Linked DNA regions of Homo sapiens. The protein of the gene in region 1 interacts with the protein of each later gene in a pairwise test. Each region holds a gene or a part of one and is shown in the gene's direction. Other genes may lie near its edges.

Region 1 (3,819 bases):
AAGGCAGAATTTTAAATAATTGATATAGGCAGGGCACAGTGGCTCATGCCTGTAATCCCAGCGCTTTGGGAGGCTGAGGCAGGAGGATTGCTTGAGCTCAGGAGTTTGAGACCAGGCTGGGCAACATAGGGAGACCCTGTCTCTATTAAAAAAAAAAAAATAGCCAAGTGTGGTGGTAGATACCTGTGGTCTCAGCTACTAGGGAGGCTGAAGTGGGAGGATCGCTTGAGCCTGGGAGGCTGAGGCTGCAGTGAGTCATGATCCCACCACTGCAGTCCAGCCTGGGTGATGGAGCAAGACCCTGTCTCAAAAAAAAAAAACCACCAAAAACTGATGGCCGGGTGCAGTGGCACGCCTGTAATCTCAGGACTTTGGGAGGCTGAGGTGGGTGGATCACTTGAGGTCGGGAATTTGAGACCAGCCTGACCAACATGGAGAAACCCTGTCTCTACTAAAAATACAAAATTGGCTGGGTGTGGTGGCACAAGCCTGTAATCCCAGCTACTCGGGAGGCTGAGGCAGGAGAAATGTTTGAACCCGGGAGGCAGAGGTTGTGGTGAGCCAAGATTGCGCTGTTGCACTCCAGCCTGGGCGACAAAAGCGAGACTCCATCTCAAAAAAAAAAAAAAAAATTGATTAATCTCGCACAGCTTTTATAAATCTATACAAGTTTGAGTAGTTCTTTCTCAGTTTCTCAGTGACAAGACTTTAATTCATTTTATTAGTATATTTCAGTAATCTTAAGAGGTACAGGGTGATACAGATTATTTTATGTTTAGTAACACTTAATATCAACTTTCTTTTTGATATGGCAGTTTAGACAAGTTTCCGGAAGTAGTTTATAGGCATACTTCTTTCTTTCTTTGTATTTTTGCTTTTGGGTTTTTTTTTTTTTTTTTTTATCTTAAACTCCTGGGCTTAAGCAATCCTCCAGACTACCAGCTTGAGCCATCACACCAAGCTATTTCTTTTTTTAGACTGAAAATAGGGACACAGATTCATCTACTCATCAAAGTGTCAGTTTCTCTGACTTCTGTTTGCCACAGCTCCTCGTGGAAGGGGTCAGGGCCGCCCTCGTCACTGTGGTCTGTCAGGATTGGTGGGAAGGGGATCTCCCCTCATCTGCTCTCAGTTTCCCACTAAACCACTTTTGGAGAATATTCCAAAAACATTCTTGAAATTTTCCTTGTACAATCTGAGATTTTATAACTTCTGCAAATTACTTTCCTTCAATGGATGAAGAAGGACATCAATGATGTCAGCACGTGAAATATTAAATATTATGCTAATACCTGAGCAGGGCCTTTGACAATTGTGGTATTTTTTGTTGTTGTCGTGATGGTGGTAAAATATATCTAAAGTTGGCCGGGCGCGGTGGCTCACGCCTGTAATCCCAGCATTTTGGGAGGCCAAGAGGGGGCGAATCATGAGGTCAGGAGATCGAGACCATCCTGGCTAACACAGTGAAACCCCATCTCTACTAAAAATACAAAAAAATTAGCCGGACGTGGTGGCGGGCGCCTGTAGTCCCAGCTACTCGGGAGGCTGAGGCAGGAGAATGGCGCGAACCCGGGAGGCGGAGCTTGCAGTGAGCCGAGATTGCGCCACTGCACTCCAGCCTGGGTGACAGAACAAGACTCCATCTAAAAAAAAAAAAAAATTATATATATATATATATATATATATATATATATATATATATATATAGTTTACCATTTGAACTGTTTTTAAGTGGTATTAAGTATATTCACATTGTAATGTAACCTTCATCACCATCCAGCTCCAGAACATTTTCATCTTTCTTTACAGAGACCCTGTCCCATGAAACAGTAACTCCTCACTTCCCCTTCTCCAGCCCGTGTGATTTATTATTTAATGGCACAGTTCCCTGAGAAGAAGGTAATGCTATTCTCATTTTAGAGATGAGGAAATCAAGCTGAGAAAAGTCACCCGAGGTCATACAGTTAGTAAGTGGCTGAATGAGGATTCAAGTCCAGGTCTTTGCTGTTCGGAAGCAGAGTTTGCATGGCTCAGAGGCCCCCTGTGGCCTGCAGACATGTTTTGTTAGGTTGGCTTAGTGTAGTCAAACAATAAGACTAGTGGCTGACATTTAGAATTGGAAGATGTCATGACAGATCTGCATTTCTGGCTGCTCTTGAAGACTGTGATGATCCAGTGACATGGACTGTGTTCTTGTGTGGCCTGTGTGTCAGCTGGCACAGAGGGGTGGCTGTGCCGCATGGCAGGGCGGCACTCTTGCTGCCTCTCACCTGCATTGCTCCTGGCTCTGAAGGCTGTGCTCTGCTCACTACATTCCACTGTGTGCTCCTGGACTCACTTGTCCTAGAGATCAAGTTACCTCTTTTGCTGGAAGTATATCAGTGAGGATATTTTAATGTCTCAGCTGGATTCTCATGTTCAATTTTAGGATTTCCATCACCAAGGAGTAAGAAGACCTTCGGGCAGAGACTGTTGGGTATGCTCCCTTCAGAAAACAGTTCTAAGAGGATGGAAGACCAGGACAGTCCTCAAGAGGTCCTTAAGATGCTCATAGATTTGGTTAGTGTCTTTGCTTTTTTTTGCAGGTTATGGTTAAGCCAAGCTTGTCCAACCCACGGTCCGTGGGGAGCATGCAGCCCAGAACAGCTTTGAATGTGGCCCAACACAAATTCGTAAACTTTCTTAAAACATTATGAGATCTTTTTGATATATATATATATTTTTTTAGTTCATCAGCTATCATTAGTGTTAGTGTATTTTTTTGTTTTGTTTGTTTTTTGGTTTTTTTGTTTGTTTGGTTTTTGAGACAGAGTCTCTGTCACCCAGGCTGGAGTGCAGCGGCGCGATCTCGGCTCACTGCAACCTCCACCTCCCGGGTTCAAGCAATTCTCCTGCCTCAGCCTCTAGAGTAGCTGGGACTGCAGGCGCCCACCACCACGCCTGGCTAATTTTGTGTGTGCGTTTTTAGTAGAGACAGGATTTCACCATGTTGGCCAGGCTGGTCTCAAACTCCTGACCTCAAGTGATCTGCCCACCTCGGCATCCCAAAGTGCTGGGATTACAGGCGTGACCCACCATGCCCAGCCAGTGTTAGTGTATTTTATGTGTGGCCCAAGACAATTCTTCTTCTTCCAGTGTGGCCCAGGGAAGCCAAAAGATTGGACACCCCTAGGTTAAGCTAATCTATTTGCTTCCTGTTAATTCAACTCTTTATCTCTCTAGACTTGCACTTGCCTTCTATGTCCTTTTCCCAGTTGGAGTACCAGACTCTACCTTCATGATCTTTATCTCCCTCAGCTCATCTTTTCTCGTCATTCATATTCTTTCTGTGCAGGTTTAAAGGCTCCATCTTGGAAAACAGGGGGCTCCTGTAGTTAACTCCAGCCAGCTTTGCCATCTACATTTATATATATACAGTTTGTGACAAGTCTGCCTGTTTATTGAGGCATTTTTAAAGTGTTCAAGGCATTTCCTCACACATTATATCCTTTACAGTCCTGCTACCCACATTCCACATGGAATGACTAAACTAAGACACTGAGACTCAGGTTATATGAACATACTTATCTCTAGACTGTTATATATTTGCATACAAATATATGAAAGCAATTTTATATACAAATAACTTCAACATTATTTTATAAATATGCACGTTGATATATTTTTTATATGTTGATATTATATACCTATATATACACACTTCATATAGATCTATATTTTCCCTTCATTTCCAGATGACTTGCAAAATTTTCAATGCTGTCTTCTGTTTTTTTTTTTAAAAAATTATTTTTAAAAAATAATCGTCGGGGCTGGGCACAG
Region 2 (4,518 bases), on another chromosome or scaffold:
ACTTCCACGTTTATTGCAGCAGTATTCACAGTAGCCAAGATATGGAAACAACCTAAATATCTATTGGTGGACAAGTAAAGAAAATGTGGTATATACATATAATGGAATATTATTCAGCCTTATTAACAATGAAATCCTGTCATTTATGACACCATGGATGAAACTGGAGGATATTATGCTAAGTGAAAGAAGTTAGGCACAGAAAGACAAATATTGCATGATCTCACTTATATGTGGAATCAAAAATAGGGAAATACATAGAAACAGAAAGTAAAATGGTGAAGGGGCTGGTGAGGGAGAAATAGGCAGGTTTTGGTCAAAGAGTACAAAGTTTCAGTATTTATTTATACACAATAAATAAGATCTGGATGTCTTCTTACCATAAAGAGCCTATGATTCACAATAGTGTATTATATACTTAAAAATAAGTAAAGAGGGTAGATCTCACATTAAGTGTTCTTACCACAAAAGGTGGGGGAAGCCCAAAGGGGTGGAAACTTTTGGAAGTGATAGATGAATTTATGGGATTGATGGCATGATGGCTTAATGGTTTCACAGGTATATATACTTACCTCCAAACACATCAAGTTGTGTATATTAACTGTGTACAGTTATATCAATCATAGCTCAATAAAGCAATTTTTTAAAGTATGTATAGTTTTATACTTGAGAATATCTAATTATACAGAATTTGTATATATATGCATAGAAATTACATATTTAAATATATAATAGGGAGTATCTTGGAGTGAACTTTTATCTGACTAATTTTGTTCTTTTTCCTTACCTCTATTCTCTGTTATCTACAATCTGTCTATCTATCTATATTCGTTTGTTTAAGAAAAAAGTTAGATATACATATTCCCTCTTCATTATATTCGTTTTTCGGACGTTTTTGTCAAGAACAGATGTGGAGGAGTGAACAGATTACTCTACAAGGATGTTCATCAGTATACTATTTTTGGTAGCACTGAAGGGATCATAACCTAAGTTCCTAACAGGAAGAAAAAAGCTAGAAAAAAATCTACCCCAAAAGTATGACCTCATTCTTGGATGGAATCTCTCTGGTGCTTGCTCGCTGTCTCTCTCTCTGCCCCCTGTCTCTGCCCGCCCCGCCCCCCCGCCACCGTCCCCTCAACACACACTCATAACAAAGAAGCTAGCTATAAATCAGAGATTTACTTTTAGAATGCTAAAAAATATTAATCACTGCGTTAATAAATATTTCTGCAATGAATCCATCTGGGTAGTTTGGTTTTTTATCTGTTGAATAAAGAGTTATTTATAAATCATCTATTAATGTAGTGAATAGGTATTACTTTTGTGTCTGGGGTGTTGTTAACGCAAACTTTGCATCTCTTTGGATTTACAGTTGTTTATAGCAAAAGAAAAAATCTTTTCCTTTTTTCTTCTTTTCATGTAAACAACGATGGAAACGACGCACGTTCGCAACCCGCAAAGCATTAGAAAGACACCGGTGAAAGACGCAGCTCAAGAGGGCGCTTTGCAGAAGATGCTGGGAAATGTAGTTCCTGGCGGCCGCGTGCGCAGGCGTACTTCCTGGCTTGGGAACCACATCGCCCGACCGTGCTCTTTATTTTTCGGTGGAGCAGGTGAGCTTTTTCTTTCCCGACCCTTGCACTCGTGTGGGAGGTGGGGAGAGAGGTCCCCTTCAAACACAACCATTCGGGCGGGTCGGGAGAGGCCTGAGAATGCATTGGCCGGGCCCGGGGGCGGAGGAAAGCCGATTAGGTCAGGCTGGGTATTTGGTTCACGTTGCAGTGGAGGGGTGGTGGTGACCTGGGCCAGCATCCCGCTTCAGGGTGAGGAGGAGGCAAAGCCGTGTCTGCTCATCCCAGCCTTAACAGTCAGGGGCTTGGGTTCTCTTCTGGGTTGGAGAGTCATGAGAACAGAGCTCAGAGCTTTTGGGCCTTGCTTTGACTGTGATGGGGGGCAGTTTATCTGGGGAGGGGCAACCACCCCAGACCTTGGTGGTAGGTAGACCTGGGAATTGCAAGAAAACCGTGATATACGTATTTAGTGCCAACTAGAATTTAGGTTTCCCGACATCCAGTTCTTGCTCTTTCCTCAGAAACTCACCTCCTCTCTAGAGATAGCTTGTTTCGTTTTACTGGTAAATTTCTGAAGTCTCTTCTATAAAGAACTGTGGAATTGATTCCCTACACTCTGCGGGCGACGAAGAGCAATTGTTTGTTCTTTGAGATGGCATTTGTGAATGCACTTCGAAAAATTGTATATGCTTTACAAGTATTGTTAACAAACAAAGAGGGAGCTGGTGCACTCGGTGCCACCCATCATGGGAGGATAAAGTTAGCCCTGTTTCTGGTTTGTCAGATTGGACCAGTGACCAGAGAGAGGAATGTAAGTGGCCTTTCACTTTGTACTCTGCAGGGAAAGAATCTGTTCCTAGATTCATTCTGACATTTTTACAGAGGGTGTGGGTTATATCCAGGTAGTCAGACAGGCTTCTCATAAAGACAGTCCTGATTTCTCAGGGCCCCTTTCCTTTTTCAGCTCTGCTTTCTCAGGTCTCTACTTACTTATATAAGATGGCATCAAGAAGAAGGACCTGACCACTGGCCCCTGACTACATGGTCTTTGGTGAGCAAAACTTTTCAAGGCATTTGTACCTTAAGCTGGGTTTAATTTCTAAAGTTCCATCTTGCAGTGTGGAAAAATCATATGCAATTAAACGTCCCTTGATAATCTCTTTTATTGCTCATTATTTGCTCTCAATTTTTTTTTTTTTTTTTTTTTGAGACAAGGTCTCGTCCAGTTGCCCAGGCTGGAGTGCAGTGCACGATCTTGGCTCACTGCAACCTCTGCCTCCTGGGTTCAAGCGATTCTTCTGCCTCAGCCTCCTGAGTAGCTGGAATTACAGGCGTGCACCACCACGCCCGGCTAATTTTTGTATTTTTAGTAGAGATGGGGTTTCACCATGTTGGGCATCCTGGTCTCAAACTCCTGACCTCGTGATCTGCCCACCTCAGCCTCCCAAAGTGCTGGGATTACAGGTGTGAGTCACCGTGCCCGGCCTAATTTTTCTTTATAACTGACAAATAAAAATTTTATATATTCATCATGTGTAACATGTTGTTTTGAAATATGTATACGTAGTAGAATGGCTAAATCAAGCTAATGAACATGCATCACCTCACGTACTTTTCATTTTTTGTGGTGAGAGCACTTAAACTGCTCTCATAGCAATTTTCAAGAATACATTGTTATGAACAATAGTTCATAACGTGTATGCACATGTAATGTGTATACAACCATGCAATAATATACATGTGTAAATGTACCCCGACTATGTTCTTTAAACATTAAAATAACTCAGCATAGCAAGATGCTCACTTACGAGAGGGCTGTAAGAAGTGAGACTGAGGAAACAGGAGATTCTCCCATCTCACTCTTACCTTTAGATAACATACTTTCTTGAGCCTGTTGGGCAGATTTGTACAAATAAAATATACATGTGTGTCTGTAACGCAGCTCTGCTGTATTTTTTATTTCCTGAAATATCACCTCTGTCCAGAGGGAGGGAAAATTTTCTTTCTTTCACTCACTGAATAAATATTCATTGAGCACCTACTTTTTGCCAGCTAATGTTCTAAGCATTGGGATATAACAGTGAATAACACAAAGTTTCTGCCTATGTGGAACTGACAGTCTTGGATGGGCACACAGACAATAATGTAAACACAGATGTTCCTCAACTGAGCATGAGGTTACATTCCAGTAAATGTGTAAGTTGAAAATATTAATTCAAAAATGTACTAATTCACCTAACCTACTGAACATCATTCATAGTGATGAATAGAGGAAACTATACCAGAGTAATGGGGCTAGGGAAGGCATAGGACAGCTGTTATTTAATATAGGGGAGTAAGAGAAGGCTTCACTGGTAGATGACATTATAGAAAATGAGAATATGGGCCGGGCGTGATGGCTCATGCCTGTAATCCCAGCACTTTGGGAGGCTGAGGCAGGCAGATCACGAGGTCAAGAGATTGAGACCATCCTGTCCAACATGGTGAAACCCTGTCTCTACTAAAAATACAAAAATTAGCTGGGCGTGGCGGCATACGCCTGTAGTCCCAGCTACTCGGGAGGCTGAGGCAGGAGAATCGCTTGAACCTGGGAGGTGGAGATTGCACTGGGCCGAGATCACGCCACTGCATTCCAGCCTGGGCTACAGAACAAGACTCTGTCTCAAAAAAAAAAAAAGGAATATGAGCCTTGTAGATACTTGGGGAGGGGAGGGGGATTAGGGAGATTAAGTTCCTCAGCAGAAGCAACAGCAAATGCAAAGCCTCAAGGTGCAGATGTGCTTAACCTTTGTGGGAGCATCAGGAAGGCCACGTGGCCAGAGAGGGGTGAGTGATAGCAGCACAGTAGGAGTTGAGATGAGAGAGGTAAGGCGTGCAGACCACACAGCACACAGGCTAGTATGGCCACAGCCAGTTTGGCTTTTATGCTGAATGAGAAGAGAAAACG

What was found.
Region 2: the proteins of CCDC125 (region 1) and ZNF883 interact in binary tests that used the Homo sapiens proteins (3 or more experiments, as listed by UniProt).

The regions. Positions count from the first base shown.
Region 1 is NC_000005.10:69,284,077-69,287,895, reverse strand, and holds part of CCDC125 (coiled-coil domain-containing protein 125), read left to right. Parts: intron 1-2,428; coding exon 2,429-2,559; intron 2,560-3,819. UniProt on the Homo sapiens protein: May be involved in the regulation of cell migration.
Region 2 is NC_000009.12:113,009,245-113,013,762, reverse strand, and holds the start of ZNF883 (zinc finger protein 883), read left to right. Parts: upstream 1-1,570; 5' UTR 1,571-1,613; intron 1,614-2,535; 5' UTR 2,536-2,622; intron 2,623-4,518. UniProt on the Homo sapiens protein: May be involved in transcriptional regulation.